Linked DNA regions of Homo sapiens: all the other regions are linked to region 2. The links come from fine-mapping of genetic effects on gene expression. A gene starts in region 2. Each other region holds a variant in brackets. All regions are shown on one strand. Distances are from middle to middle. Region 1 overlaps STK32C (serine/threonine kinase 32C). Region 2 holds the start of STK32C (serine/threonine kinase 32C). Region 3 overlaps LRRC27 (leucine rich repeat containing 27). Region 4 overlaps STK32C (serine/threonine kinase 32C). Region 5 overlaps STK32C (serine/threonine kinase 32C). Region 6 overlaps LRRC27 (leucine rich repeat containing 27). Region 7 has its middle 2.2 kb from the start of LRRC27.

What was found.
Region 1: its variant is fine-mapped to the expression of STK32C in whole blood (TOPMed, PIP above 0.99). The same link has a PIP of 0.9 or more in NK cells, blood mononuclear cells and naive CD8 T cells.
Region 3: its variant is fine-mapped to the expression of STK32C in pancreas (GTEx, PIP above 0.99).
Region 4: its variant is fine-mapped to the expression of STK32C in whole blood (TOPMed, PIP above 0.99).
Region 5: its variant is fine-mapped to the expression of STK32C in whole blood (INTERVAL, PIP 0.98).
Region 6: its variant is fine-mapped to the expression of STK32C in whole blood (TOPMed, PIP 0.99).
Region 7: its variant is fine-mapped to the expression of STK32C in testis (GTEx, PIP 0.92).

The regions. Positions count from the first base shown.
Region 1 is chr10:132,253,962-132,258,025 of GRCh38, reverse strand. All of the region lies in intron 1 of STK32C (serine/threonine kinase 32C), which reads left to right. Among named protein-coding and RNA genes, the nearest start is that of STK32C, 52 kb to the left of the region's middle. RefSeq lists enhancers at 2,772-3,271, 3,272-3,773. The variant T/C (reference allele first, on the strand shown) is at 2,399.
Region 2 is chr10:132,306,139-132,310,202 of GRCh38, reverse strand. STK32C (serine/threonine kinase 32C) reads left to right here and starts at 2,253. Exons shown (of 12, transcript NM_173575.4): 1 at 2,253-2,631. The coding sequence starts at 2,370. RefSeq lists enhancers at 440-982, 983-1,527 and a silencer at 1,780-2,429.
Region 3 is chr10:132,363,641-132,367,704 of GRCh38, reverse strand. It overlaps LRRC27 (leucine rich repeat containing 27), which reads right to left. Exons shown (of 11, transcript NM_030626.3): 10 at 2,155-2,281. Among named protein-coding and RNA genes, the nearest start is that of PWWP2B, 32 kb to the left of the region's middle. The variant C/T (reference allele first, on the strand shown) is at 1,978.
Region 4 is chr10:132,223,927-132,227,990 of GRCh38, reverse strand. STK32C (serine/threonine kinase 32C) reads left to right here. Exons shown (of 12, transcript NM_173575.4): 3 at 1-14; 4 at 1,023-1,196; 5 at 2,207-2,244; 6 at 2,375-2,464; 7 at 2,655-2,758; 8 at 3,468-3,584. Among named protein-coding and RNA genes, the nearest start is that of DPYSL4, 39 kb to the right of the region's middle. The variant T/C (reference allele first, on the strand shown) is at 1,604.
Region 5 is chr10:132,230,390-132,234,453 of GRCh38, reverse strand. All of the region lies in intron 2 of STK32C (serine/threonine kinase 32C), which reads left to right. Among named protein-coding and RNA genes, the nearest start is that of DPYSL4, 45 kb to the right of the region's middle. The variant G/T (reference allele first, on the strand shown) is at 2,283.
Region 6 is chr10:132,372,905-132,376,968 of GRCh38, reverse strand. It overlaps LRRC27 (leucine rich repeat containing 27), which reads right to left. Exons shown (of 11, transcript NM_030626.3): 11 at 1-1,903. The coding sequence ends at 1,727. Among named protein-coding and RNA genes, the nearest start is that of PWWP2B, 22 kb to the left of the region's middle. The variant C/T (reference allele first, on the strand shown) is at 1,599.
Region 7 is chr10:132,327,989-132,332,042 of GRCh38, reverse strand. It overlaps a transcript of STK32C not described here and a transcript of LRRC27 not described here. Among named protein-coding and RNA genes, the nearest start is that of LRRC27, 2.2 kb to the left of the region's middle. RefSeq lists a silencer at 29-148 and an enhancer at 33-567. The variant G/A (reference allele first, on the strand shown) is at 1,531.

The DNA.
Region 1 (4,064 bases), 52 kb after region 2:
GGACATGGAGCCCTTCGTCCTGACCGATTTCCCGGGGCAGGTGGAGTCCGTGCACTGAGGAGAGCCTTGCTGGTCTTTGCAGCCCATGTCAGGGCCTGTGGCTTTCAGGGGCCTGCTGGGCCGCGGCCTCCTTTGGGCCTCAGGCAGGCTGCACAGTGGAGGCTCGAGAGCCCTGAGTCCCACCTGCAGGTGTAGAGGAGCCCCCAGCCCAGGGCAGCTGATGGGTCCCCTGGGGGTGTTTGGTTCTGGGGCCCCCTCCTAGTGTCTGCAGAGGGGCCTGGTGGAGGGTGGGGGTTGGGGGGAGGATTGTGGGGGTGTCAGGCCTGGGATTGCCATCATTGGCTCACAGTGGGCGCCCCTGGGGACAGAGGCAGAGAGAGGGCAGGGCAGGGGGCCGGCAGCAGGGGGTGGGCACCAGATGGGGTGGACAGGGGTGATGTGGCTTTCTGTGCCAGAACAGGCAGCATCCTGCCACCCACTCCTTCGCAGCTCCGCCCCGCCCATCTCTTTGGCTGGGGGGTGTGATGCTCCCTCCCTGCTCTGAGTCACTCCTCCTCCAGCTCTGCCCCTCTCCCTGGGAGCTCTCAGGCACCCTGAATGACCACAGCCCGCTGGCCTAGGGGCCTGTGGCTGCCAGGAGCCACCTCTTCCTAGGAGCCCCTCCGTCTCCCTCTGTGGGAGACAGTGGCACGGGTGTGGGAGGGCTGTGCAGGACCCCAGGGGCTGCAGGTGGGAGGATGGAAGGACAGACACGTGGACAGGGCTTTTTCCAGCCTTGACCCACCCACACACCTACCCATCTCGTGCTGGCCTCTGAACACACTGACCTCTGGGGTCTTTCAGGGCATGTCCTGTATCCACAGGCCTCACCCCCCTGAGGACCCAGCCTCATGGGCAGCCCCCAGCTGGTCCCACAGCGAGCCCTGAGTGTGGCCCTTGGTGCAGCCACACCCCAGGACACAGGGCCCTGCCCATCCATCTGCTCCTGGCCAGGGCTCCTTCCTGGGCTGTTCTGCTTTGATCCCCAGCCCTGGGATCCCACTGGGCTCGCTCCCCCTCATCCAGTGCTGCTGCTGCTGTGGCCAGCGTCCCCCCCACTGGCTAGGCACACCTGCCTCAGGGTTCAGGACTCAGGAGGAACCCCAAGCCCCACCCCGAGTCAGGGCTGTCTCCATTGCAGCTCCGGGGTCCCCAAGCATCTGTGCCTCTGGGCGGGCAGCCCCAGGAGCAGGCTTCTCAGCTGCTGCAGGGCCAGGCGGCCTTGGAGTCCTCCAGGTCTGCCCCTGTGGGTGGTCCTGGGGTGCTGGGCCCTGCGCAGTGAGAGGCAGGGGTGGGTGGGGCCGGGCCTTGGACAGTAGGACCCCTCTAGGCAGCCTGGGGGGAGGTGCTGCTGCCCACCTCTCCAGCGGTTTGGGGAGCTGGAGGAGCCCAGGTCCCTGCTGCCGTGGGCGACTCCTGCGGTCTCAGGCACTGCGGTCTCAGGCCTGAGCCTCTGCCACCCGGAGATACTGTATTGATCAGGCGGTTGCCCTAATCACTCATTTATGGCAGATCCCCGTGTTGTCTGAGGATGTCGATATTAAACACCGGAACATGATTCCAGACAATTTCAGACCAGACAGGACCAGGATCCACAGTGCTGGCCTGGGAAGCTGCCACTGAGCCTGTTTTATGGGTGGAAGCTTTCACTGCAATTAAGGTGGGGGAGGGAGATGGCAAGAATGCTGCCGCCAACAGGGTCCTGCTGGAGGTGTAGGCACCAGGACCCCGGGCTCTGGGTGTGTACCTGGGCAGGAGAAGCCACAATTGTTTCGGAGCCCAGGGGCCCCACAGGACTCAGCTGTGGGCTGCTGCCACATCCTGGCTGTGTCTGTTTCACAGAAAAGACAGGGTGAGGGCATCGCTGCCAAGATGGAGCCTGGGGCACAGGGTATGTTCCCAGAGTAAGACCCCAGTTGGCTCCCCGAGGCTGGAAGGGTGGTGGTGCCAGCTGAGGACAGAGCCCTGTCCCGGAGCTGCCCAGGGATGCCGGGAAGCCGCCAAGCCACCCGGGCGAGTCCAAGCTGGACACCAGGGCTCCAGGGTGTGCAGAGGCTGCAGGCTGCTGGTCATGGGGGTCTGCCCCTGGGTGAGGGGACGGTGGAGAAGGAGAAGGTGGCCAGCTGGGCCCTCGGAGATGCGTGGGCAGCGCACGTAATGCTGGGCCATGGTGCTGGCACCCAGGCATGACCTCGAGGCTCCAGGCCCCCTCTGGACTGAGGAGTCCAGGGTCAGAGGCCGGCACCCACACCCTCATCCCCTCTCCTGATCTCTGACCTTCCTGCCCTGGGGTTTCAACACATCCTCAGTGGTGCAGGAAACCGCGTGGGGCTCAGCAAGGGTTGAGGGACCTGCTTCC[T/C]GCAGGGCCCCCTGCTCCTCTCCTGGGTGCTGCTGTGGCTGGACGCTTCTGCTCTATGTTCTCCGCTGTAACTCGGGAGCCTCCTCACCCCTGCCCAGCGGCTCTCATGCCTGTCTCTAGCCCCCACCTGTCTTGTCCCCATCTGCGTCAACCCTGCCCGTCAGCGTGGTGGGTCTTTGTTCCCGCAGGCCATGGCAAGAGGGTGAGGGGTCTGTGAGGTGATGTCTGGTGACTCCTGTGGTTCCTGTTGACCTAGCGGGCCAGGGCACCTGAGGAGTGGGAGTGGGGGGCACCCATTGCCAGGAGGAGCTATCGGGCCGGTTCCAACTCTTCCACCTGGCCCGGTATTTCCTAAGTCAGGAGCCCCGTGTGGGCCAGACATCCCCAGAGGCTGCACAAGCTCTGCGGGGCCTGCGTCTCGGAGTCCTGGGGGATGATTTTCCTCATCATAAGCACTTCCCAGGTCATAGGAGACGAGACGGCATTTAATCAACTTCTGCGTGTGTTTCAACCACGTGTGACATTTGATCTTTGTGACAGCTCTCACAGTAGTGCCCACTTCTGCTGTGCAATCCTCCCATTGGTGAACGGGCTGGTTCTGCCTGAGGACACTTGGACGTGGGGGCCTCTTCCGGATGAGTGGGTGGGGTGGGCTGTGAAGGGAAGCGTCCCAGGCCTGGGACACGCCTGCAGCTGTGGGCAGCTCATCCACCACGTGGCAGCTCTGAAACTGTCCAGCACCCACTTCCCGGGCCTCCAAAGACATCAAGAGGGGACCTGGGGTGTCAGGAGCAGAGCTGATTCTCCAGCTCTTGAGACAGCCTTCGCGTGGGGTGCACGCATTGTGCCGGGGTGACATAGTGCTGATTCCCGGCGCCCTGCGGCAGGCTTATTTTACTCTCCTGGGCTCCCAGGTCTGGGGGCAGCCTTCGTGGAGGGTGCACGCATTGTGCCGGGGTGACATAGTGCTGATTCCCGGCGCCCTGCGGCAGGCTTATTTTACTCTCCTGGGCTCCCAGGTCTGGGGGCAGCCTTCGTGGAGGGTGCACGCATTGTGCCGGGGTGACATAGTGCTGACTCCCGGCACCCTGCGGCAGGCTTATTTTACTCTCCTGGGCTCCCAGGTCTGGGGGCAGCCTTCGTGGAGGGTGCACGCATTGTGCCGGGGTGACATAGTGCTGATTCCCGGCGCCCTGCGGCAGGCTTATTTTACTCTCCTCTCTTCTTTTGCTGTCCTCATTGGGAGTATTTTCTTACCAGTTTTGATACAAGCCCTGGCTTATGAAAAGGCTATTTTTTTTTGTTGTTTTTTTCTCCCCTGATGGAGTTTCGCCCTTTTTGCCCAGGCTGGAGTGCAGAGGCGCGATCTTGGCTCACTGCAACCTCTGCCTCCCGGGTTCATGCCGTTCTCCTGCCTCAGCCTCCTGAGTAGCTGGGATTACAGGCGCCCGCCACTATGCCTGGCTAATTTTTTGTATTTTTAGTAGAGACGGGGTTTCACCATGTTGGCAAGGATGGTCTCGATCTCCTGACCTCGTGATCCACCTGCCTCGGCCTCCCTAAGTGCTGGGATTACAGGCATGAGCCACCGCGCCCTGCCTGAAAAGACTAGGTTTTAACCTGAAACTCCACTGAGGCTTTGGGCTTTCCTAACATGGTTTGTTAT
Region 2 (4,064 bases):
GGGTGAGGTTGGAGGGTCTCCTAGTTAAGTGTGCAGATGTCCCCATGAACCCCTCTGCCCCCCTGCACTCTTGTCTTCTGCAGGACTTGGTATCCCTAGGTCAAGAGCCCCTTTGGACCCTCAGACCAGAGGACTGTCCATCCCCAACTGCCCGGGCCGGGGAGGCGTCCTGGGCTCTGGCTGTATTCACATTCTCCCGCCTTTTGGGGTCCTGGTTACCTGCAGGTCCTCAGCCTCTCCAATCTTCAGAGTCAGCTTTCTACCTGCTGTCTGAAGTCTATTAACATGTCTTCCCTTCTCCTGTTCCCTCTTAGGTGGTGGTGGGGACGTTATATCTTTTATTCCTTTTCTGCCACTTTTAGGGGTCAGAGGGAGAGGAGGAGAGGCGATGATGTAAGTTCAGAGGCTGCGTGTTTTGGGAGGAGCCCTGGGGAGTCTGATGTGTGCACCGGGTACGCAGGGTTCCAGGCACTGCCCTGCCTTGGTACCTCCCCTTCCAAACGCTCCTTCACCACTCCTGCTGGGATGGGCACCGAGGGCTTCCTCTGAGGCAGGTGCTGAACCCACTGCCTTCTGCGTGCCTGCTGGAGAATGGCAACTTTGAGGGAGAGCAGGGAACAGAGCTTCGCAGCTGCAAGGGCTGAAAACTCGGCTCTGTGCACTGGAAGTTAGAGACCGATGCGTTTGTGCTAGCCAGGCAGGGAGAGCTGCGGTGGCTGGTTGGTCAGGTAACCTAGGTTATGCTGCCATAAAAATACCCTCTAAATCTCAGTAGTGAAATGCATGCCATGTGTCCTAAGCGGGTGCATGTCCAGGTGGGTGCATGTCCTAGGCGGGTGCATGTCCAGGCGGGTGCATGTCCAGGCGGGTGCATGTCCTAGGTAGATGGGCATGGTTCCATTCCTTATAGTCCCCAAGGGATGGGGGCTCCTGTTGGCCCAGAAGCCACACAGACTTCCCGTGCTCACATTTCATGCATCAGGCGGTTAGGGCGGGCGGCCACACTGAATGTCAAAGGCCGTGGGGAGGCAGGGCTCACAGTGGCTGAATGACAGGGTAGACAGTTGTGTGCGGTGGGAGGGACGGGAGCGGGAGACACTGGCCTTGGAGCCATGTTGGGGATCCGCTCATCGTCCGGGCGGGCAGCAGGAAATCCCATCTAGGATTTCACCGAGGAGGAAGAGACCCCGTCTTTGTGTCCTGGTTACAGGGCAGAACTTAAGGAGGTAAAGGCTTCCTAAAGTCAAACAGCCCGGTAGCAAAAACTGATTCTTCAGTGACAAGCGCCAGGGGCAGGCGGCGAGGCTCCATGCAGAGCCGCGCCTTCTCCAGGGCACTCCAAGGCGCCCAGCACTTTCCGCGCAAGGTCGCGCCTGGCCCTGCGCAGGGGCAGAGGTGCCCGGAGGTCAAGCCGCGCCCCAGGCCTCCGAAATACGCCGAGTGCCGAGGCCCCTGTCGCATCTGGACAAGGGGACCCTGGGCGACTCGGGCACGCGGTCTCAGGCCGGACGGGGGTCGCGAGGATGGCACGGGGGTGCCCGAGAGCGCGGGCGCACGTGCTCAGGGCTTAGCGCCCACCCCAGGCGCCCGCGTGTGCGCGCGCGCAGCCAGGCCCGCCCTGCCCCACCCCACCCTCTGGCGCAGCGCTTGGACTCAGCCTGCCGCCTCCTGACCGTGAGCCGGGCTCTGCCCGGCAGATTCCCGCCGCCCGCATCCCGGGCCTGCAGCCCGGCCTCACCCTGCGCAAAGCAGAAGGCTGGAGTTTAGGGCTCCCCGCACTGGGCGGCGGAAGCCCGCGCGCCGGCTGTTTTCACGAAGAAGGCAGGGGAGGGAGGCCCCCGGAGACCGCGAGAAGGTCCCGCCGCCGTGCCGGGCACAGCAGTCCCCGTGCCAGGGACGCCGACCTCCGGGGCCCCAGGATACCCGTGGGGACGCTCCCTGCCTCCCTCGCTCTCGTACCCGCCGTCTAGTCTGAGCCGTGGTCCCCGTGTCCCGGCGAACCACAGCCCCCATCCCTAGACTGGTGGCGGCCACCCACTCCCTAGCGACACTCCAGGCACTAGCCCCGCCCCTGCCCCGCCCCCGGCTCGGCCCCGCCCCTACCCTTCCCGAAGCTCCGCACCTGCCACGCCCCGGCGCTCAGCTCCGCCTCGACCCCTTCCAGGAGCTCCGCCCCGCCCCCGCCCCTTCCAGAAGCCCCGCCCCTGCCCCGCCCCCAGCGCTCGCAATCTACGGGGCGGGTTCCACCGCCCAGAAGAGCGCACGGCGGGCGCTGCCGGCCCCGAGCGCTCCCGCTACCACTGCCGCTCCCGGCCCTGCCGGCCGGCCATGCCCCGAGTTCCGGCTGCCGCGCGCACCCAGACCCGGCGATGAGGAGTGGCGCCGAGCGCAGGGGCAGCAGCGCCGCGGCGTCCCCGGGCTCGCCGCCCCCCGGCCGCGCGCGCCCCGCCGGCTCCGACGCGCCCTCGGCCCTGCCGCCGCCCGCTGCTGGCCAGCCCCGGGCCCGGGACTCGGGCGATGTCCGCTCGCAGCCGCGCCCCCTGTTTCAGTGGAGCAAGTGGAAGAAGAGGATGGGCTCGTCCATGTCGGCGGCCACCGCGCGGAGGCCGGTGTTTGACGACAAGGAGGACGGTGAGTGCGGGCACGGGGACGACGTGGGGGCCGCGCGCTATTGCAGGGGCGGGCGCGGCTGGGCGGCTTTTTCCCGCAGGGGTTCCCCCGGTGTCCGGGACGGCTTCCCGGGGCGCCCCGGCTTCCGGAGAAGCTCGCGCCGGGTGGCTGCGGCCCCACGCGAGTTCTGGGCGCCCGCCCGCGTCCTCCGTTTCTAGTGGCGGCGCCGCAGGAGGAGCAGGCTGGGCCCGGGCCCTCGGGGCGAGGGTCCCCCGCGGCTGTGGCGTCTCCGGGCTTGCGCGCGCCTCCGCCCACCGCCCGTGGCAGCCCTGCTTTCCGCTTTCCGTGATCCGCTCGGGCCCACGTGCGGGCTCGTTTGTACTTTGCAGTTAGAGAGGCGCTCACCTGTGCCGCCCGAGTGCGAGTGAGGCTCCTGCCCCACAGGTGGCGGGGCCCGGCCGCTCAGAGGCTCAGTCTCCTTGGTGACCGCGCGGTGTCCATCCTCTGCTCACCCATGTGCGCTGGAGGCAGGGCCAGGCCGTTGTGCAAAGACCTGCCCTGCCAGGAACGAGTGCGCTGCTGAGTCCTGTAGATAAAGCCGCCAACCCCGGGGACTGGTGTCTCCTGAGTGACCGTGCAGCCGTGGGCGCCATAGAAAGCAGAGAAGGCAGGTGAGGTGACATGGGACAGGCCTGCAGGGACACCTCCCGGGGTGCCAGGGGGCCCCGGGGACCCCCGAATTATCACCTGCAGGGAGATGTGGTGCCGCGTCTGCCTGTGGGCACTGTAATACAGTCACATGCAGACATACAGCTCTTTTCTACAGGTAACATGCAAATCATTTAAAATCGTACATTGATGACACATTTCATGTTTTTTGACATTTTCTTAAAATACTTGAAATGTGCATTTTTCATTTATAGATAGCGTGCAGAGGTATGATGGATCCTTCAAAATTTTAGAGCCCAGCGCTCAGGAGCCAGGCTATTTACTTGCGATAAATAATTTAAGCATTATGGGAAATTACAGTAATACGACCTCAGGCCGGCGTTGGTGAGTGTGGGGCCGTGCACCGCCGTTCCTCCGGGAGACGGCACCGGGGATTCATGGTGTGCTGCCTAGAAGGAGGGCTGAAGGCCCAGCCACACCAGGCCCCACACGCTCCAGGGTGGCCCGTCACTGTGTCCTGAACTTCGGGACAGCAGAACTCACGATGGTGAATGTTTGAGAAATGTTTTTGTTTTTAACATAAATATTCAAAGTAAAGAAAGCCCAGAGTGAACTAGGAGCTGATCAGGAGGCAGATTTGCCTCTCGTTTCTGGCTGCGGGTTGAGAGAACGTCTGAGAAACGCATCTGGTTTAGCACTTGCTGGTGTCAGCCAAGAGCTGGCTGCTCTTCTGGGTCTCGGCACCGTGCTCTCCGGGGGTGGGAGTGGAGACAGTGGTGTGGCAC
Region 3 (4,064 bases), 58 kb before region 2:
TTCTCAGCTTATCCTAGTTTGCTGAGAGTTTTTATCATGATAGGTGTTATATTTTGTCAGATGCTTTTTCTGCATCTATTGATAAAACCAACTGATTTTTCTTGTTTAGCTTACTGATGTGATGAATTGCATTGGCTGATTTTTGAACGTTGAATTAGGGTGTGTGATTGCTTTTACACATTGCTGGATTTGATTTCTGAATGTTGAGAATTTTTGCGTCTACATTCATGAGCGATATTGGTCTACACTTTTCCTTTCTTGTAATATCTTTGTATGGTTTTGGTATTAGAGTAATGCTGGCCTCAGAGAATGAGCTAAAAAGTTTTCTCTCTGTTTCTGTCTTCTGGAAGAGATTATCGAGAATTGGTATAGTTTCTTCCTTAAACCTTAAATGTTTGGTAGAATTCACCAGTGAACACTTCTGGGCCTGTGATTTCTGTTTTGGAAGGTAATTAATTATTGATTGAATTCCTGTAATAGATACAAGCATATTCATTTCTTCTGTAAGTTTTGGCAGATGTTGTCTTTCAAGGGATTAATCTATTTCACTAAATTTATCAAATCTGTGGCTAGAGTTGTTCATAATACCAAATCGACTTTTGTGTCCCTAATGTGAAGTGATGGGTTAAGACACAGATGTTTTGCAGCCCTAAGAGGCAGGGTTTGGGTGTCCAAGGACAAGGTCATACTCATAAACGATGGATTTAGAAAGAATAAGAGTTTATCTAAAGGCAGATACAAACTCCTTGGGCTGAGGAGGAAAAGAGTCTCAGAAGTGGGGTCCGAGTCAGGTTGGGTGGGGTCTCCATGAAGTGGCTCCACATCCTGCCCTCATGCCTCCTCTCTCCCATCTCCGGCTCTAGGAGAGAGGGAAACAGCGGAAATGGTGGGAATGGAGCCTGCAGATGGGGTGTGGGGACAGGAAGGCCAGGGTTGCTTCCTCCCCCGTGACAGTGCTGCGTGCTCTGGGGGCAGCCCCGATGCAGCTCGCACCAGCCTGACCTGTGTTCGGGCATGGTACACTGACCTGGAAGAGGCCACCAGCCAGGGGCCTTGGGTAGCTTGAGAGGACAGGCCAGAATCCTTATGGCTGCAGGAAGGGTGGGGACACGGGTATCCAGGTTCACTGCCAGGGACAGCAGCTGTGTCCTTCTACAGCTGGATGGGCTGGCCAGGCAGCAGTTCGGGCAGCAAAGCACTTTCCTTCATTCCTGCGTCTCTCCCACAGCCCAGGATACTCCAAGTACCAGGAGGTGGGCATCAGCGTATGCTGAGTGAATAAACAGCACTGGCGGTGGCTGAGAGGATGGTTAACATTCCAAATATATAGGAGCCACTTCCGTGAGCAGTTCTGCTTAGGAGGCTCCTGGTCAGGAGGCCTTGGATCCCCATGAATATCGGCCTCCCTACATAGACACCGAGCGTGTCAGCCATGGTCCGGTGGCCTCAGCCAGACCCCTCTCTGCAGTGACGCCCCTCATGGCCCAGCCCTGGGCCCACAGCCTGGATCAGCTGGGTGCAAAACCTCAAGCAAGGACCCCACAGACATGTGGAGAGGACTGGTTCCCAGTCCCTGTCAGCAGGCTGCCACTCCTGCCATCAGATTCCCAGTGCTGAGATGCCAAGGCCCGCCATGTGGCCTGGCACATTTGAGGGCTCAGCCCCTCGGCTGAAATGTTTTCCTTCTCATGTGACCAACTGTAATTCTGGGAATTTCTACACCTCATAAGACACATTCCACACAGTCCCACGGTTTTAGAGAGCGCATGCTCTGAAGAGGCACAGTGAGTTCTCTTTATTTTTAATAAAACAATGTTTTAGGCTGTGCACAGTGGCCCAGCAATTTGGGAGGCCAAGGCAGGTGGATCACTTGAGGCCAGGAGTTCGAGACAAGGCTGGCCAACATGGCAAAACCCTATCTCTATTAAAAATACAAAAATTAGCCGGGCATGGTGGTGTACACTTGTCCCAGCTACT[C/T]GGGAGGCTGAGGCAGGAGAATCGCTTGAACCTGGGAGGTGGAGGCTGCAGGGAGCCGAGATTGTGCCACCGCACTCCAGCCTGGGTGACAGAACAAGACTCTGTCTCAAAAAAACAAAAACAAAACAAAACAAAAAACACCCCACACTTTTTTAAACAGAACCAAGAAATCCTTACAATTTCCAGATCCTCGGCAGCCTTCCTCATCTCCTCCAGTGGGGCCTGGCCATGGAATCTTCTTTGCTCACGCATTTGGAGGACGTGCTGTTTTATCTTCTCTTCTAAATTTCTCTCCTGCAGGGCACTGAGAAACAAAGGGCAAAGAGGGAAATGACTTGACACATTTACTCTCATCCTAGCAACTCCCGCCATAACCAGGGAGAAAGCATGTGCCTTTCTTCCCAGACCAAACAGCGGTCCTGAGGCTCCCGCACAGCTGTGCCAGTTACTGTGGCGCTGCCCTGGGCCTCCCCGGCACCCACTCTCCTCCAGACTCACGCCGGGGGGCCTGGGCTGCCTCTCCCATCCCTTCTTCAGTAGTTCAGAAGCTGCCAGAACACACACTATTCTTATTTAAAAACCTCAAATTGATTTAAGATATGACACATTTAGGACACTGCACACTGCACCACATGAAGGGAAAAGCAGGTTTCTGTTCCCACATGGAATACACGGTTTTCCTAAATCCTTAAACAGACAAACAGAAAAGTGTATTCAATTATGATTTTAAACATATTTTCTGTTAGCACTGGGGCTCAGGGGTTTGGGGTTCCTTTAATTTTAAAGACAATGACTCAGGGTGGTAGAAAGAGCTGGGGATCTGCTGCAGGTGAGCTGTGGGGTGGCGGGGTCCACTCCAGTCTGCGTGAGTGTGGGGCCCCAGGGTGTGGGCGTGGAGGTAGATGTAAGGGTGGGTGTAAGTGTGGGTGGGTGTGAGTGTGGGCGTGGAGGTAGATGTAAGCATGAGTGTAAGTGTGGGCGTGGAGGTAGATGTAAGTGTGGACGCGGACTGCATGAGTGTGGGGCCCCACGGTGTGGACGTGGGTGTAAGCGTGGGTGTGCAGGTAGATGTAAGTGTGGGTGGGTGTTAAGTGTGGGCGTGGAGGTAGATGTAAGCGTGGACGCGGACTGCCTGAGTGTGGGGCCCCAGGGTGTGGACGTGGGTGTAAGTGTGGGTGTGGAGGTAGATTTAAGTGTGGGTGTAAGTGCGAGTGTGGAGGTAGATGTAAGGGTGGGTGTAAGTGTGGGTGGGTGTAAGTGTGGGTGGGTGTGAGTGTGGGTGTGGAGGTAGATGTAAGCGTGGGTGTAAGCGCGGGTGTGGAGGTAGATGTAAGGGTGGGTGTAAGTGTGGGTGGGTGTAAGCGCGGGTGTGGAGGTAGATTAAGTGTGGGTGTGGTCATGGGTGTGGTGTGGGTGTTGGTGCGGGCGTGGGTGCATGCGCCACTGTGAATACAATGGCACACAGTCTCACTCAGCCTCTCCGAAGACCCTCTTACTCCCAGCAGCAGGGTTTGTGCCGGTTTTGCTTGCTTTTCAGAGTAACTATGGAAAAGAAAGCATGATGTCCTCTGGAGTTCTACAGAACAGAGCCCTCAGGTCAGGGCATGCCCTGTGTCAGCGCCTCAGACTCCAGCTTTTACTGTGCCCAGGGTGATGGGGGGTTAGCGGGCCACTGTGGTCTGCTGTGGGCTTTTTAAAGGCCAAATATGGCAGGTAAACTCCCTGGAGGATGTAAGAGAACATTCAAATGTTTGAGACGAAATGGTTTTAGTCTAAGCCATTTTCACGAGGTTGGGGAGTTAATACAACCTAGTTGGCCTTCGAGATTTTCCCTAAACACTGTCAGCCTCCAGGAGGAACAAATTCTGCAGGAACAGAACATGCCCTTTGTCACCCACATCTCATCCCACCTCACCCTTCCTCCAGGTTTCTTACATCGCAGCCGGGATCCAGGGTACGTTAAACTGAGTGGGGAGCCCCCTGGCAGACGTACGCTGAGCAGCAGGGCCGGGGCCAGGCCCTGGGCCTTCCAAGCTCAGGCCCCACGGTCTCTTCTGCTCTGGCCTCTGAGTGCAGTGAGGCGCTTT
Region 4 (4,064 bases), 82 kb after region 2:
CTGGTGAACCTCTGGTGAGCCTGCCATGGCCTCGCTGCAGAAAGACTTACCGTCCTGAAGCCGGGAAGGCACTGGCTATCCTCTCCTGCCCTTGGTGCTCCTTGGCCCTCGTGCCTCGGAGATGCCTCTGCCACCCACAGGCCCTCTCTAGCCCTCCTCATCTATCCCCCTTCCTGTGCCCCAGGCCTGGCAGTGGCCCAGGTGGCCATGACATGCTGGGGTTGGTTAATGCAGTGTCTCTTCTGAGCCTGCCGGAAGACCAGGGCTTCCCTACAATGGAGATGTGCTCCCATGGAGTCTCTGGCACTAGTCAGAGAGGGAGAGAGTTTAGGGACTGAAAAACTCACCACTGTCATCACCATCACCATCACCACCATCATCGCCATCACCACCACCATCACCACTGCAACCATCATCACTCTCATCACCGTCATCACTATAATCAACACAATCACTATTGTCACCACCATTACCACCACCACCACGACCACAATCACTGTTATCACCATCACCACCACCCTCAGTCCTCACTACCGTCATCCTCACCATCACCGTCACCACCACCACCATCACTGCCATCGTCAACACCATGGATGCTGGTTGTTAAATGCCAGCTCTTTGCCCAACACTGTCAAGAGTGGTACCTACACGGCCTCATTTTCTGTAACAACCCTCCGAGGCAAATGTCTGTATCCCCATTTTACCGAAGAGGAGGCCGGGCAGCCTGAAGCACCCGGAGCTGGCACTGTAGCTCTGCTCTGCATTTGCCACTCCCAGGTGCCTCTGGCCCCAGCTGGGCCACCTCCAGCACAGGGTGGTGTGTCTTTCCTCAGGATCTGGGCTCAGAGCTGCTCTGGGCTGGGGTGCAATCAGTGCCTTGGGCAGGCCCCTCCTCCTGGGAATGCCTGGTGGCTGATGCTGGGGTGGGGCTGTGGTCCTTAGGGGGAGTGTGTCAGCTGTGGGAGCAGCCATGACTGGCTCCCCAGCTGTGCGCACAACAGGCCTTCCATCGGTGCCCACAGGTACTCCTTCCAGGACGAGGAGGACATGTTCATGGTCGTGGACCTGCTACTGGGCGGGGACCTGCGCTACCACCTGCAGCAGAACGTGCAGTTCTCCGAGGACACGGTGAGGCTGTACATCTGCGAGATGGCACTGGCTCTGGACTACCTGCGCGGCCAGCACATCATCCACAGGTGTGTGCGTGGCAGACGGCGCAGGTACCTGCTGAGGTGGGCGGGGCTGAAGCAGCCTTAGGTCAGGCTGCCGGCACGGCGGCCGTACTCCCTCAGAGCGGGTCTAGCTCCTCTGCCCCACCCTTGCCTGAGTGCCTGCCCCCAGCTGTGGCACCTGTGCCGACCAGGTCAGCCCCATAGCTGTGTGCCTGGTGTCCATCTGGGGGGACCTCGTCCCAGCAGCCCCAGCTGAGACTGGGCACAGTGGGCTGTTAGCCCTGGTGGACAGACCACCAGGCTGGGTCACAGCAGGTGGCCTTCACCTGGTCCATTTAACTGAAGGCTCCTGTTTGCCCATCCACCACATCCCAGGGAATCCAAACTAATTTTAACATTAGCTTAAAGCAGATGAAATTAGGAAGCAGAGC[T/C]GGTGTGATGGCTCTGAAAATAAAATTTAAAAAAAGAAAATAGGAAGCAGATTATGAAGGAAGTGAAATTGGGAAGCAGAAATTAGGCTGAAATTCCGCAGCAATGGAACAAAATGAAAATATCTGTGAGGTATATTTTAAAGTCGAATGGACTGGTGTTTGCATTTCTGCTCTTGGGGACTCGGATGTCTGATTATGACCTAGGCACCAGTCACTGAGCACTGGCTGTGTACCTGGAAAAGTTGGGACAAAGCAAGAGCCGAGGTGGCTTGGTCTCCTAGAGGCCGAGTCTTGGAGGGGGAGGGCAGACCCTGCCAGCAATTGCTCTCGTCCTCTGGGGCTCCAGGCCCCCTCCCAGCATCTGGTGCCAGGTGTGTGCTGCTGCCCAGATGCCACAGGGAACGAAGTGGCTGACTTCATCGCCTCTGCCCCCACGCAGGGGTGTGAGGTCCTAGCATCATCCAAGGACCAAGTCAAGCTCCCAGGCCTCTGCCTCGAGTGGGTTGGTGGGATGTCCTGGGGACTCCAGGGATTGTGACAGAGATTCCAGGGCAGAAACAGGGCAGATTCCCAACTCACCTTCCCACTTTCTGCTCTTTCTAGAGATGTCAAGCCTGACAACATTCTCCTGGATGAGAGAGGTGTGTGGGGTTGGGTGTGGGCAGCCCAGGTGGGTGGTGGCAGGGATGGGCCTGTCAGGGGAGGAGGATCCTGCACGCAAGGATGCATCTCTGGTCCTGGGACAGCCACACCTGACCCCTCTCTGCACAGGACATGCACACCTGACCGACTTCAACATTGCCACCATCATCAAGGACGGGGAGCGGGCGACGGCATTAGCAGGCACCAAGCCGTACATGGGTGAGCCCGAGCTGGGGTTCCAGATGGGAGCTGGCTTCCTCCAGGTGGGAAGGACAAGACCTCGGTGGCTTCTCTGTCCCACCCTGGAGGCAGCCTGGTCTCGGGATGTGGCCTCAAGGTGCCGGCCCTGTGCCCACGGGTCCGGGCTGTGACCCCGTGGCAGCTGTTTTTCCTTCTTTCTGTCGGAAAGCTCCGGAGATCTTCCACTCTTTTGTCAACGGCGGGACCGGCTACTCCTTCGAGGTGGACTGGTGGTCGGTGGGGGTGATGGCCTATGAGCTGCTGCGAGGATGGGTATGGACCCCCTGCAGCCCCTGGGCTTGGCTGCCAGGCCCCTGCTCTCTGCCCCCACCAGTGCTGGGGAGGGGGTGGCTGCCCCAGTGTCCAGGTGCGCAGGGATGTCTCCACTGTGTCTGAGGAGTCACGCTTTTATCGAAGTGTGTAGTTGGTGATGGAATGCCTGAGCAGGAGGAGGAAGGACAGACTCACTGTGGTTTCCCGGGGCCGCTGCTGGTGCCTGCAGGCCAGCCTCTGTGGGGGTGGACAAGGCTGAGAACTGGCCAGCAGGGGTGCTGCCTCGGAACTTTCCACAAAAAGTTTCTTTTGGGGCCCTGTGCTCTTACCCTTGTGGCCACGGCGAGGCCAGTCCTGGAGACCGGGAGGCTGGGGGTCCTCTTGTGGACCGTACCCCTCAGCCCTGCACAGGACCCCACCTCTGAGGAAGCCAGCTCCCTCCTGGCCCTCTGGGGCTGATCTACCTGGACCCAGGCCCCCTGGGATCCCAGCCAGATGGGCGCAGCAGCCAGGGCGCAGGACCCAGGCGTAAGCTTTATCTCACCCAGGCTCCTCCGCGGCAGGTGGAGGCCAGGCTGTGCTCAGAGCTGTGCCTGCACTTGGGGTGGGGGGAGGGGGTCCTCTCAGGGCGATGGCACCTGTGTCTGGCATTGTTCTGGGTGTCCTGGGGGCCAGGAGGACCTGCCCAGCACTGCCTCCCTGTCTCCAGAGGCCCTATGACATCCACTCCAGCAACGCCGTGGAGTCCCTGGTGCAGCTGTTCAGCACCGTGAGCGTCCAGTATGTCCCCACGTGGTCCAAGGAGATGGTGGCCTTGCTGCGGAAGGTGAGCCCCCATCCCTGAGCCTCCTCACCCTCCGAGCACCCACCTCCCTCCCTCACTTACCTGCGGCTCGGGACACCCCCTCCAGTGCACAGTTAGTGCCGCTTCCTGGCAGGCACAGATCCCTTCACTGCAACCTGTGGGGGCCTCCGCAGATGGCAGCCCCAAGCCCCAGGAAGCGAGCTGGTGGCAGGCTCTGTGGCCCTCTCATGGCGAGCCCTACCAGGTCACTGGTGTCCTGGTGATCCCCTGAGCTGCGTCTCCAGGCACCCTCACAGCAGGCTTGTGCGCCCGCCCTGCCGGTCACCACAGAGGAGCCCTGAGCCACGTCCCCTTGTCCCACGTATTGGAAGGAGGGTGTCGGGTGGGTGGGTTCAAGCCCATGCTATCTCCGGGACCCTTTGCCCCAGTGCCTCCTGGGGAAGGTGGGCAGCCACTGCCCACTGCAAACACCTCTCAGGGGACATCAGCCTGGCAGGGACA
Region 5 (4,064 bases), 76 kb after region 2:
CAGGGCAAGGCAGAAAAAGCGAAGTGGGCAAACCTGCTGGAGGAACCCCCGCTGTTTCAGAGGGGACCGTGGCAAGGCATGGGAATGTGGCAGAAGAGGAAGGGACGTGGAGGTGCCTCCCAGAACTCGGGGATGCATCGGGAAGTGTCAGGAGGACACAAGGGAGAAACAGCGGCAGAGCTCCCTTGGAAGCGGCTGTCAAGCTCGGGCAGCATGGAGGGTGGCCCTCAAGATGGATCACGGATTATGCACATCCTGCACACAGGTCCTCGATCCCAGGGCGAGGAGAGCTGGGAGTAGCCAGGCAAGGTGTTAAGAGCCTTGGTTATCCCCAAGTGGGAGAGTCCACGAGGCCACAGGTTCTCAGCCACTCAGGAGCAGCATCTCCAAGCTCTGTTTGAAGATAGCCAAGAATCCCAGACCTCATCGGAACGATCGCTTGCATGCAAGCACCAGAAAACAGTATGTCCATAGTAGTTCCACAGTGGCGAGGACTCAGACGGCGCCCCAGCCCATCTGCTCTTCCAAGCCCAGTAAGGCTCCAGCCAGCATGAAGCAGCTGAGGGGAGGCAGCTGTTGCCGAAGGGGCCATCCTGCAGTCGCAGCAACTGTGTGCCTTAGCCCCACGGCAATGTTCTGACTAAACAAGGGCTTTAGGCGGGAGCGCGTGTGGGCCTGGGAGGTAGCTCCGTCCCCTGGGAAGCCGGTGGGCTGAGTGCCCCTGCCTGGCCACCAACACCTGACAGCCATAGGGCATGGGGGGTTCCCAGCCTCTTGGGACAAAGACCCCCCTCTGCCATCTGCAGTGGATGGAACAAGAGCCTCAGTGCCAGGTGGTGCCATCGCAGCATGGCCACTACAGCCGCCACCCAGGCCCCTTGGTGAGCTTGCCAGGGTCCACCTCTTCTTGAGAGGTTTGTGGCCTCGTGAGGCGTCTTAACTTCACCAGCCATGGCCTAGGAAGCAGCCACTAGGCATCGGGGGAAAACTGAAACCCCAAAACGGATTCCCACTCACCGCGTTAGAATCCTGAGCTCATCCAGGGAGAGGGACCTGGGACAAGTGGCCTATGGGACACAGCTTCTCAGGGACGTCAAGAGAACAGCTTCAGGGGGGTCTCAGGAGGGGCAGGAGGAGAGTGAGAGATGGAACTGCCTCTGGAGTGCACGGGAGCCCGGTTCTGCCTGGGGGACCCCTCTGCCTCCAGTGCCCTCCCCAGAGGCCCCATACTGGGCTGCACCTTCTTCAGCCGCTGCAGACACCTTCTCCAGCCCCGTCCTGGGCACTGACCCTCCCGTTTTTGTGGTACCCAGCACTGAACCCTGGGAGGGAGCCTGCCTTGCCCTGTCCCGCCCTGCTGTCCCCACGTCCCCAGGCTCTACTTCTCCTTGGGACACCAGAAGCTCCCCCAGGAAGGATTAGGAGGTGGTTTCATTATACCGTTTAGAGGCCTTAGGTACTTGTGGTCAGGCATTTGCTTCTGGGGAACAAAAATTACTTGGAAAGAGAAAGAGCTTGGGTGAATCACTTAAATCTGCCAAATGCATAAACAGCATTTGGTTGAATTGGCAGTCACATGGCTGCAGGCACCAGCCTGTTCCGGGTGGCGCTGTGGCCTCCCCGTCAGTGGCGTTTCATAGGAAAAGCCCAGGGCTCCGGGTGGCGCTGTGGCCTCCCCGTCAGTGGCGTTTCATAGGAAAAGCCCAGGGCTCCGGGTGGCGTTGTGGCCTCCCCATCAGTGGCGTTTCATAGGAAAAGCCCAGGGCTCCGGAGCCCGGGGTTGGCTTGTTCCTCTTTGTGGTGAGACCTCAAACTCCATTTTCTCTTTGGGCTTAAGTTGGTGATTGGAGGAAGCGGCTGGGAAAGCAGGGACCAGTTTCCTGGAGGAAGCGTTTGAGTCGGACCTGCCTGCCCTCAGCCCCCCAGGCCTGGTCATAAAAGGCCGCCGGTTTCCAGTCTTTTTTGTAAACACTGCTCTGCGTGATCTCGGGTGCTGAGGTCCCTCCAGACAGAGACTGCACCAAACCCAGGGCTTTACGCCACCGCTCGTTGGAGCCTCCTGCATCAGGGGCCCGAGGGAGCCTGCCGGACCCGCCCTCTTCTCTGTTGTCTTCACCTAAGAGCACTTTGATGTGATTGACTTAATCAAATCCATTTCAACGGAAAACCCCACACCACCCCAAACCACCTTCAACGTGCCTGACAGTCCAGGCCTCAGAGGGCGGGTCCTAGTGATAAGGGGCAGGACAGGCTCCCCACCTGCTGGCCTGGGTCAGAAAATG[G/T]TGAAGGAGATTAGGGGAAGTGGGCTGCTGGGTTGGCAGGTGCTCCGGTGAGGGCGCAGCGTGAGCGCAGGTGAGGCTGCTGCCTGCAGGCGTGGCCGCAGGTGCTCAGAGTCTGCAGGGTGTTATCAGGGATGCAGAGACACAGGAGGCGTGGAGAAAGCGAGTTTCCCGCCACAACCAAGTTCCGTAGCTCAGTGTCTGCAAACAACAGAAGTTTCTCTTGTAGTCCTGGAGATGGGAAGCCTGAGACCTGGCAGGGTGGGCCCTCTGGGCGGCTCCGTGGGAGGACCCGCTGTGCCTTCTCCCGGCGTCTGGTGGCTGCTGGCCACTCGTGGTGTCCTCAGCTTGCCGCCATGTCACTCCATTCCCAGGCTGGCATCTTCACATCACTGCCTCTGCTCCACCTTCACACTCCCTCGCCCCCATGCCTGCGTCATCTTCTCTTTTCTGTCTTTTATCAGGGTGTCTATCATTGGCTTTAGGGCCCATCCCAATTCAGGACCTCCAGATCCTCAACTTAATTACATCTTCAGAGACCTTTATTCCGAATAAGGCCACATTCCGAGGCTCCTGGTGGCTGTGTCTTTTGGGGACGCACTCGGGCCTGCTGTGAGGGATCGAGGCGTTTCCACCAGGGTCTCCAGGGAGGCACCATGGCCACTCACCCTGCACTGCCAGTACCTTGCATGGGGCTGGCATATAGGAAGACTTGCAAGCTTTTCTTGAACTGCAGTTGAGCTGAGAATGTTCCAGGACACAGAGCCCAAAGACTCGGGAGACCTGAGTGTAACCCTGCCTCCCCTTGCTCCTCAGGGCAGCTCCTCCCACAGGGCCAGGCCAGGGGCTTGGACTGTGGCTGATGGCTCCACCATCCAGGCAGTTTGTTTCCCAGGTGGGGTAACAGGCTGGAGGCAAGTGGATCTGCTGCTTTGTTCTGGTGGACAGCAGAGCCGTGGGTGTGCGAGGCCAGGCCCTGTCTCGAGGTGGCTCTTCTGTCCCTGCTCCCTGGCTGTGGGTGATGGGATGCGTGTGACGGGGAGAGCAGGCTTGGGTCACAGGGCCAAGGGGCTGGTCCCAGATGGAGCCCAGGCCACATGCTTGGGAAAGCGGGTGGTCCTGGGTGAGCCTGTCTGGCAGGAGGGTGAGGTCCTGTCTGGAGTAGACACCCGGTCTGTGTCCGCCGCACATGTGACAGGGCCCAGAGGGCACGGGAAGCCCAGGTGCCCTGTCCCCTGGTGAGTGGGCTGTGGGGGTTGAGCACCCCAAGGGAAGGCGTGTTCTTCCAGAGATTCCCCCGTAAGAGCTGAGCTGCATCGTGAGCAGGAGGGGCAGAGGGAGCCTGGAGAGGGTTGGGTCGCCTGGGCAGGCAGCTTTCTGGGGTGGTGCACAAGCGACAGAAAGCCTGAGGCTTGGGACCGGCTGAAGACGGCCTTGGGCTGCGGGTGCTGGCGCCGCTCCAGGCAGAGGTGGGCTCTGCAGCCCCCCCCCCCCCGCCAGCTTCCCCCCCAGCAGCAAGAGCCCTGGCCCCAGCCAGTGGCCCCAAGCCAGGCTCCTGAGGGGCAGAGGGTGAGGGCCGGATTTTCCACCATATTTGTCTCACAGCCTGTCTGGTCCCAGCCCCAGGGCAACAAACAGCCTTTCTGGAGCAGTTTCCAGACCTGCAGTGGCCGCCTTGAGCCTGCAGTGACCGTCTGCAGGAGGCCGCGGGTGCTGGGGCTGGCGCAGGAAAGCACCGTTGCTTCTGCGCCTGTGCAGAGTGAGGCTGGGGCTTCCATCCCGGGC
Region 6 (4,064 bases), 67 kb before region 2:
ATTTGTAGGCATCTGACAAAATAGCCCCAAAACACGTATAGCAAAAACTCACATAACTAAGAAGAAAACACATGTTCATGATCATAGCTAGAACTGTTCACAGGCCTCTCTCAGTAACTGAGAAACCAGGCTTAAGTCAGTCAGTAAGGGTACAGGAGCTCTGAGCAACAGGATTAGTCAATGTCACCTGACACACACAAAACAATGTACCCAACAACTCAAAATACATTCTTCTCAAGTGCACAGTCTACATTTACCAAAACATATCCTGCGGCAGGCCGCGGGGCGAGGCTTCACAGTTTCAAAGGACTGGGATCACAACGGACACGCTCTCTGATCAACAACCAGGTGAGCACCTTGGAAGCTGAGCCCCAAGCCCAGTTAAACCTTCAGAGGAGAGCAGCTCAACCCACGGCTGACTCCAGCCTCACGGGAGACCCTGACCAGCAACGCCGGCTGAGCTGCTCCAACGCCTGCCCTCAGGCGTGAGAAATGGCAAACGTCTGCTGCTCCAGCCGCTGGGCCGCAACAGGTCACTGACACCTTTTCTAGCTTCCTGAATGGAAAGCTTAGGTGATAAATTTCACGCCCTTCTTCTCTAATACATGGGTTTGGAAGTGATGCATTTCTCTCTAAGCACCAGTTAAACTCTCGGAAAGTACGAAGTGCAGGGCGCAGAGACCCATGAGACAGAAGACAAACAGCAAATCCAGTGAAGCCAAAACCTGGGGCTTTTGGAAAAGAGGAACAAAATTGATAAATCCATAGCAAGAATGATGAAGAACACCAGGTCAAGAATAAAAGAGGGGACATTATTACGGATCCTAAAGATACTGAAAATAAGAGGAACTTTATGCTGATACATTGCACAACTTGGATGAAATGAGGAAACTCACTGAAACCATATTTACCAAAATTAACACAAAAATAAACAAAGTCTGAATAGTCTCACCTCTGTTAAAGAAATCAAACCAAAGATGTTTTCAAGATCCAAGCAAACACTCAGCACAAGAGACTAAGTCACACAGAATCTACACAGCCTGGGCAGACAGAGCATGAAATACGGCTGATCTAGCATGGGGAGGTCTGCAGACCCTGCCGTGTCCCTGGGGTGGAGTCCACTGAGTGGCAGCCTGAGTGGTAGCAACCAGGAAGGGGTCAAGGCTGAAAGGAGGGCCCCGTAGCTGGGCAGGGAGCAGGGGAAAGGAGGGCCCCCAGGGGAAAGGAGGGCTTGTCACTGGGCAGGGAGCAGGGTAACCACTCCCCCGAAGCCCTTTTTGGCTGTCACCCCTCCCTCCTAGCCAAAGGTGGTGCTGCAGGGACTTCCGGCTTGGCGGGAATCGGGTGACCTGGTCTCCTCTCCCACACTCAAATAACTAAGTGAAGGAAAGCTGTGAGTACTTTTGTAACAAGGGCTCCAGGACAGGAGAGAGGCAAGTGCCTGAGTGTGAGCACTCTGTCACATGGCTTGGCGGGAACCTGCAGGAAGAAGGGAAGGCGAGACCACGTGCTCACAGTGTCCTTTCTTTTAATACGGCTGAAATCTTCCACAGCCTCAGGAGAGGGACGTGGACCTGTCTAAGGAAAACAACAGGCTG[C/T]GCGAAATCAGCCCTCAGGGTAACACTGAACCTGGCGCTCTTCCGGCACCACACAGGAGGCGACGCCCGGGAAAGAAGACTGAGCGGCTCCTGTCTGAAGACGTCTCCATCAGTCCAGCCACCTGGTGTCACTGGTATCTGCGAACATTTCCTGATTCTCCATATTTTGTGTTAAAAAATGTATTTTGAGGCTGTGCTGCCGGCAGGCCAAGCGAAAGGTTTCCAGTGAGGGCCGCCCGTCGACGATCTTTGTTCAAGGTTAATCCCAATTTTAGCTTCAATACTTCATCCTGTAGCTCTGTGGCCTTATGGGAGACAAGGAGGGGGAGATGTTAGAAAGGCTGGCAGGACTTAGGGCGTCACCACGTCTCTGGCTCAGATTCCACGTGGGGCCCAGGCCATGTGGGCGTCAGCAGAGCCAGCCCCGCTGCCCCGGGGCCCCTGCAAGCCGCATCACGGCGCGGTCCCCCCTGCAATGGGGCCCAGCAGCCTACTTCCAGCCGGCTCCCAGGCCTTCTACCTCATGAGGACACCACCCTCTGCAGGCACACACATGGCCACTCATCCTGGTGTCCCCACGGCCCCACCCAGGTGTCCTGTGCATCTGCACAGGTCAATGGATGAACAGAGACTCAGGGCATCGTCCTGTGGGCAAAGGGAAGGCTGATGCCACACCCCGGGCAGTGTCTTGGCAAGCATCACCACAGCCAAGACCACACCTTAGAGCCGTAACTGTCCTGGGAAGCAGATGGGGCCACAATTGCCACCCCCACCCCACAGACACAGAAGCTGTGGATCAGGGGTTCCTACAGGAGAAGGAACTTGCTGAGCGTGAAACCAGGGGCAGGCTTTCTGTTCCAAACCTCATGGTCCACGGCCAATCCCCTGGGCAGAACAAAGTGAGGCTGAGGAGGGCACTGCGGGGGGCCCTCAGGTGGATAAACTGAGGAGGGGATCTTCCCGTTCCTGCCCCTCAGGCCCTCTGCAGAGTCCCAACCTCCCCCACTCCAAGCACAGGAGCCCTGGGCCACCCGGCTCCCGTCTCCCTCCCCGGCTTGCCTTGCTGGGGGCACAGGTTGGACACTACCTCCAGTGCAGGTCCCAGGAGACCCCTGCAGCCTCCCCGCCCCATACAGACATAATCACAGCAGGTCCCTGGAGCCACTGCACCCCCTCACCATGCAGCCATATCACAGCAGGTCCCTGGAGCCACTGCACCCCCTCACCATGCAGCCATAATCACAGCAGGTCCCTGGAGCCACTGCACCCCCTCACCATGCAGCCATATCACAACAGGTCCCCGGAGACCCCTGCAGCCTCCCCCGCCCCCATATCGTAACTGTGGGCTAGAGCAGCACTCACGGCTCAGCTCTGCGACTTGGTCAATGTTACTTGTTACTGACCCAGTAAGTAGTCATTGATAACGAATTTTGCTTCCCATAGAAACCTGTATTCCCTGTGGGATTCATAACTGCCTCCTTTTAAAATGTTTGTTTTCTACATCTGTCATTACATCCTCTCAAACTGTAAACCTCTCTCGACATCCTCCTCCACTGGCCAAGTCCTCAGACTGACCTGGTCTCCCTGTGGAGACCCCGCCAGGCTCCTCTCACAGTAGGGGGCGGCCGGGGGCTTCTGGGTCAGCTCCCTTTCTTCTGGAACTCTTACCTTCCTCTCTCAGCATCTACTCCCTTGTTTTGATAGAACAAATTCTACAGTAGCTTCTGGAGAAAGACTCTCTAGATGGGAAGCAGCATTTTGAGTCTTTGCGTATCTGAAAACGTCTTATTGTGTGCTGACCCCTGACCTTGCAATGGGAGTACCGAATCCCGGCGCCTGCTGAGGGCAGTGCCATCACCGCGACCAGCTCCCTCCCAGTGCCTGGTTCTGTGTGATCCTCTCCCCCCGCCCTCCCTGGAATCTCCGTGGGTCCGTCCTGCTCTGGTTCGGGATGCTGAGCCATGGTGCCGGCATGTGTGGGCCCTTCTAGCAGGAAGCACGTTGGTTCCTTTGTGACGAGCCCTCCTGCACCTTCTCCCTCCGTCTGCTCTCGTCTCTCCTGCTGGAACCTGCCGGAACCTGCCGGATGCTTCGCTCTGCTCAGGTCGTCCTCTAACTTCCTTTCCTCTTGTCCCATCTGTTTCCCACCTCCCCTTCCTGGGGGATTTATTCATCTACTAATTTAATTTTTTAAATTTTTTGCCACATATTAAACTTTGCCTTGGGAGTTCTTCTGGGTTACCTGAGTGTTCACTTTCTACAACAGCTTGCTGGGTTTCATGGCAGCAGACTTGTCTATTCCTACGGGGGGATTTTAATTCTGGCTTGTCATTTTTAAGTGTCCCCTAATGTTCGCATCCATTCGAAGCTCGCTCCCCAGCCGGCTGGCTTTGGCCTCTCCCTCACCTTGGGGCTTCCCTCAACAGCTGAGGAACCTCTCGTGACTGAGGCCCTGGAACGAGGCTG
Region 7 (4,054 bases), 22 kb before region 2:
TGCGTGCGGGGGCGGGGTGTGGGTGCCCCTGCGCGGCAGGGGGTCGGGTGTGGTGCGCCTGCCCGGGAGGGGGCGGGGTGTGGTGCGCCTGCGCTGGGGCGGGGGGTTGCGCTTGCGGTGGGGGGGTTGTGGTGCGCCTGCGCGGGGGTGGCAGGGGGTGGTGCGCCTGCGCACGCACGCGGCCAACGGTAGCATCCGTTTTTCCGCGCCCGCGGCCTTGAAGGGGTGGTGGTCGACGGGCAAGTAGAGACCGCGAGGGTCTGGAGGGGCGACCGGCCTGGCACAGAGGGGAAGGAAGAGAGCGGGATGCTAAGTGCCGTCTGGGGAGCCGGAGGGCCCGGGGCGGGCGGGGCTGCTCGAGGACAGCCGAGCAGAAAAGAATTGCTGCTGAGGCACCACCTTTGGAGCGGTCCTCGCTGCCTGTCCTTCCCGCTGGGCTCACTCCCCGCGTCTCTCCTGGGGCTTCCTGGAGCCACTTCCCACAGGAGCTGCTTGTCCCCAAATCTTGCCTCAGGACTTGCTGCCAGGGGAACGCAGACTCAGAGCGTCCTCTTTGGAGAAGTAAGGCTGCCTCTGGACGGAGGAGTGAGGGGGGCGAGGAAACGCAGTGAGTGTCCTGAGGAAGGGTTTTGAGAATTTGGAAGAAGATGAAATGACACCGGGCGGGAGGGGAGGTGCTCGCGTGGTCCTGTGGAACCCTGGAGTCCCGTGCACCTTCATTCCAGGATCCAACTGATAATGAAAAGTAGCACCCTCTGTCCCACCCAGAAACACTCTGGAAACCCGGACAGTTTAGCTGGAGTCTGCCATGATTTCACTTTTTTTTTTTTTTTTTTTTTTTTGAGGTGGAGTCTTGCTTTGTCTCCCAGGCTGGAGTGCAGTAGCGCGATCTCGGCCCACTGCGACCTCCGCCTCCCAGGTTCAAGCAATTCTCCTGCCTCAGCCTCCCCAGTAGCTGGGACTACAGGCGCGCGCCACCACGTCCAGCTAATTTTTGTATTTTTAGTAGAGACGGGGTTTCATCATGTTGGCCAGGCTGGTCTCGATCTCCTGACCTCATGATCCGCCCCCCTCGGCCTCCCAAAGTGCTGGGATTACAGGCATGAGCCACCGTGCCCGGCCTGATTCCACTTTTTAAAGGAAACGACATAATTATGTGGAGAAACGACTATCCACTTTGAGGGGATTTACGTTTTATTTTTGTGAAGAGATCACAGTAAGAAATGTTTTTTAGGCCGGACACGATGGCTCACGCCTGTAACCCTAGCACTTTGGGAGGCCAGGGTGGGAAGATCGCTTGAGGCCAGGAGTTGGAGACCAGCCTGGGCAACCCAGTCTCTACAAAAATTAAAAAAAAAAAAAAAAAAAAATGCTGGGTGTGGTGGCACACACCTGTAGTTCCAGCTGTGTGGGAGGGTGAGGCAAGAGGATCGCTTGAACCTAGGATTTTGAGGCTGCAGTGAGTTATGATTGTGCCACTTAATGTCAGCTTCGGTGACAGCGAGACCCTGTCTCAAAAAAAAAGTTTTC[G/A]TACATACCCAACTATCTACCAATCAGGAAGCTGAAAGCACAACCAGTACCTTCTCAGGAGCGTGGGGAGGCCAGCCACCCGGGCAGAGCAAGGAGAGAATGAGGAGTGACATGGGTGTTGCCGTGAGTGGCGAAGGGGATGGAAGATTTCAGCACGATGCTATTTCTAACAAGTTTCAGCATTCCAGTATCTCTTTTCACAAATAAAACATTTACTAACCATTTGAGCGTATTCCCTCTTGCTTGTTATTGTTGCCTCAGGTTTTTGTTTCACATTTTTCATGCTACATTAATTTTTGTAGTCAGTAGTTAATTGTATGTACGAGCATGTTTTGCCCTTTACTGTGCTCAGTTTTTGCCCAGCCAGATTGTATCCATTGGTAGCCTTTTGGCAAGTATTCTTGGGTGAGCCTCCCAACGTAGGAACGAATGAAGTGTTCGTGTTGATCTGATTATTGAGTGGCTGTGGAGCTGGTGCCGCGTTCCTTGTTGAGTCATTTCCTGTCTTGATTTTAGGACCTTCCTCCGGGCAGCGACTGCTGCTACCCTGCCGAGAAGTTTGCTGCCCGTGGCATTGCTACTTCCATGAAGGAAATCTATCTTCTCTTTTCATGTCTTTGTTCTGAAATTTCGCTGTGGTATTTCTGAGTATAAGTTGGTTTGGCTGTGTTGCCTGGCGCTGGCCGTGTCTTCTCACCTGAGATAGCTAAGTTTCAGTTCCCAGCCCTTCCCGGCCATCTGTCCTCCCGTGGCACCTCTGCACCCTGACATAATTCTTGTTCTGGATCTCCTAAAAGGGAGTAGCTTGCACCCATTCAGTGTCTTCTCCATCTCTCAAACTGCGCTTCCCAGTATTGGTCTCTGTGTTCTCAGTTTACGATCTTCCAGTTTACTAGTTCTGTCTCCATCCAATTAGTTTGTTTAATCTGTTGAGTTTTTAAATAAAACCGCATTGGTCTCTATTTCTAATTTTCTTTTTTGTGTCTAATTTCTTCCAGTTTTTGTTTTATAATCTGTTTTTAATGTTCACGGCTGTTTTCTTTCTTTATCTACCATGAGAATCCCAAACACCTCTATTTATTTATTTTATTTATTTTTTGAGACAGGGTCTCAGTCTGTCACCCAGGCTGGAGTTCAGCGGTGTGATCTCGGCTCACTGTAGCCTTTGCCTCCCAGATTCAAGCAATCCTCCCACCTCAACCCCTCAAGTAGCTGAGACTACAGGCATGTGCCACCACACTGGGCTAATTTTTGTATTTTTTGTAGAGACGGGTTTTACCATGTTGCCCAGGCTGGTCTCGAACTCCTGAGCTCAAGCCATCCACCTGCCTCAGCCTCCCAAAGTGCTGGGATTATAGGCGTGAGCCACTGCCAGTCCTGAGCCACTGCCCGGGGTAGACACATTTATTTTAAACTGTGCTTTATTGTTTTCATCTCCCCTGGGCGGAATTTACCAGTTGATGGCTGATACTGTTATCTGTCTTCTTGGAGTCCTGTGTTTTGAAATCTAGGCTTGCAGGCTTCTGCAGAGGGGGCTTATGTTCTGTTTCCCTGAGTATTCACTGTGTGTCATGCTCTGGCAGGAGCCTCCGTCCAGCCTTTTGGGGTCATGCTTGGGTGCTTGCCTGGCCTTGCCGTTGGGAACTGTAGATCCAGTCCTGGAGCCAGCAAGAGGCTGGGCCGAAGGCTGTCCTCGTCTCCATCTCCAGATATCGCTGCAGAAGTTGTATGTTTTTTCACATTCCTTTCATGGAAGTGAAACCGCCTTTGCAAAATTATAACTGAGGAAATTATGACAGTGAAAGAGATCAGACCTAACCGATTCCATCTTGCTTCTAACTTTTAAGCTGTCCTTGTTCATTCCTGGGCATAGGCCAAACTAACCTTGGGAAGGAATTCAGTTCATGGTTTGACTCTGAAACAAAATGGGTAATAGCCCTTTCCCGAAAATACCCCCTTCTTGCCCAGGGACCAATCTGCCTTTGCAGGACTAACAAATTAGGTACAATATTAGACATTACAGGTTAGGGGTCCTGCAGCCTCTGGCTCCAAGAGTCTAAACCTCCCCAAATTGCTCCTGGGTATAACATCACTATTGTAAAACCCAAGATCAGAGCTTGAGATATTTTGCAAACCCTGCACTCCACAGATCAGCCGACACCACCCAGACCTGTAATCTCGCTCCGGCAGTTCGGGCACCCACCCAGGAGCAGAAAACAGCAAGGAAACCTCACTTCGACCCCCTATGAGTCCATCTCCAACCTGACCAATCAGCACTCCTCATGTCCCAAAGCCCCACCCTCCCAATTATCTTTAAAAACTCTGATCCCAGAATGCGCAGGGAGACTGACTGAGTAATAATAGTAGAACTCCGGTCTCCTGCACAGCCCGCTCTGCGTTAATTACTCTTTCTCCATTGCAATTCCCCTGTCTTGGTAAATGGGCTCTGTCTAGGCAGCAGGCAAGGTGAACCCATAGGGCAGTTACAGAGGCAAGAGACTTATTCCAGCCCTGGTTTTCAGCG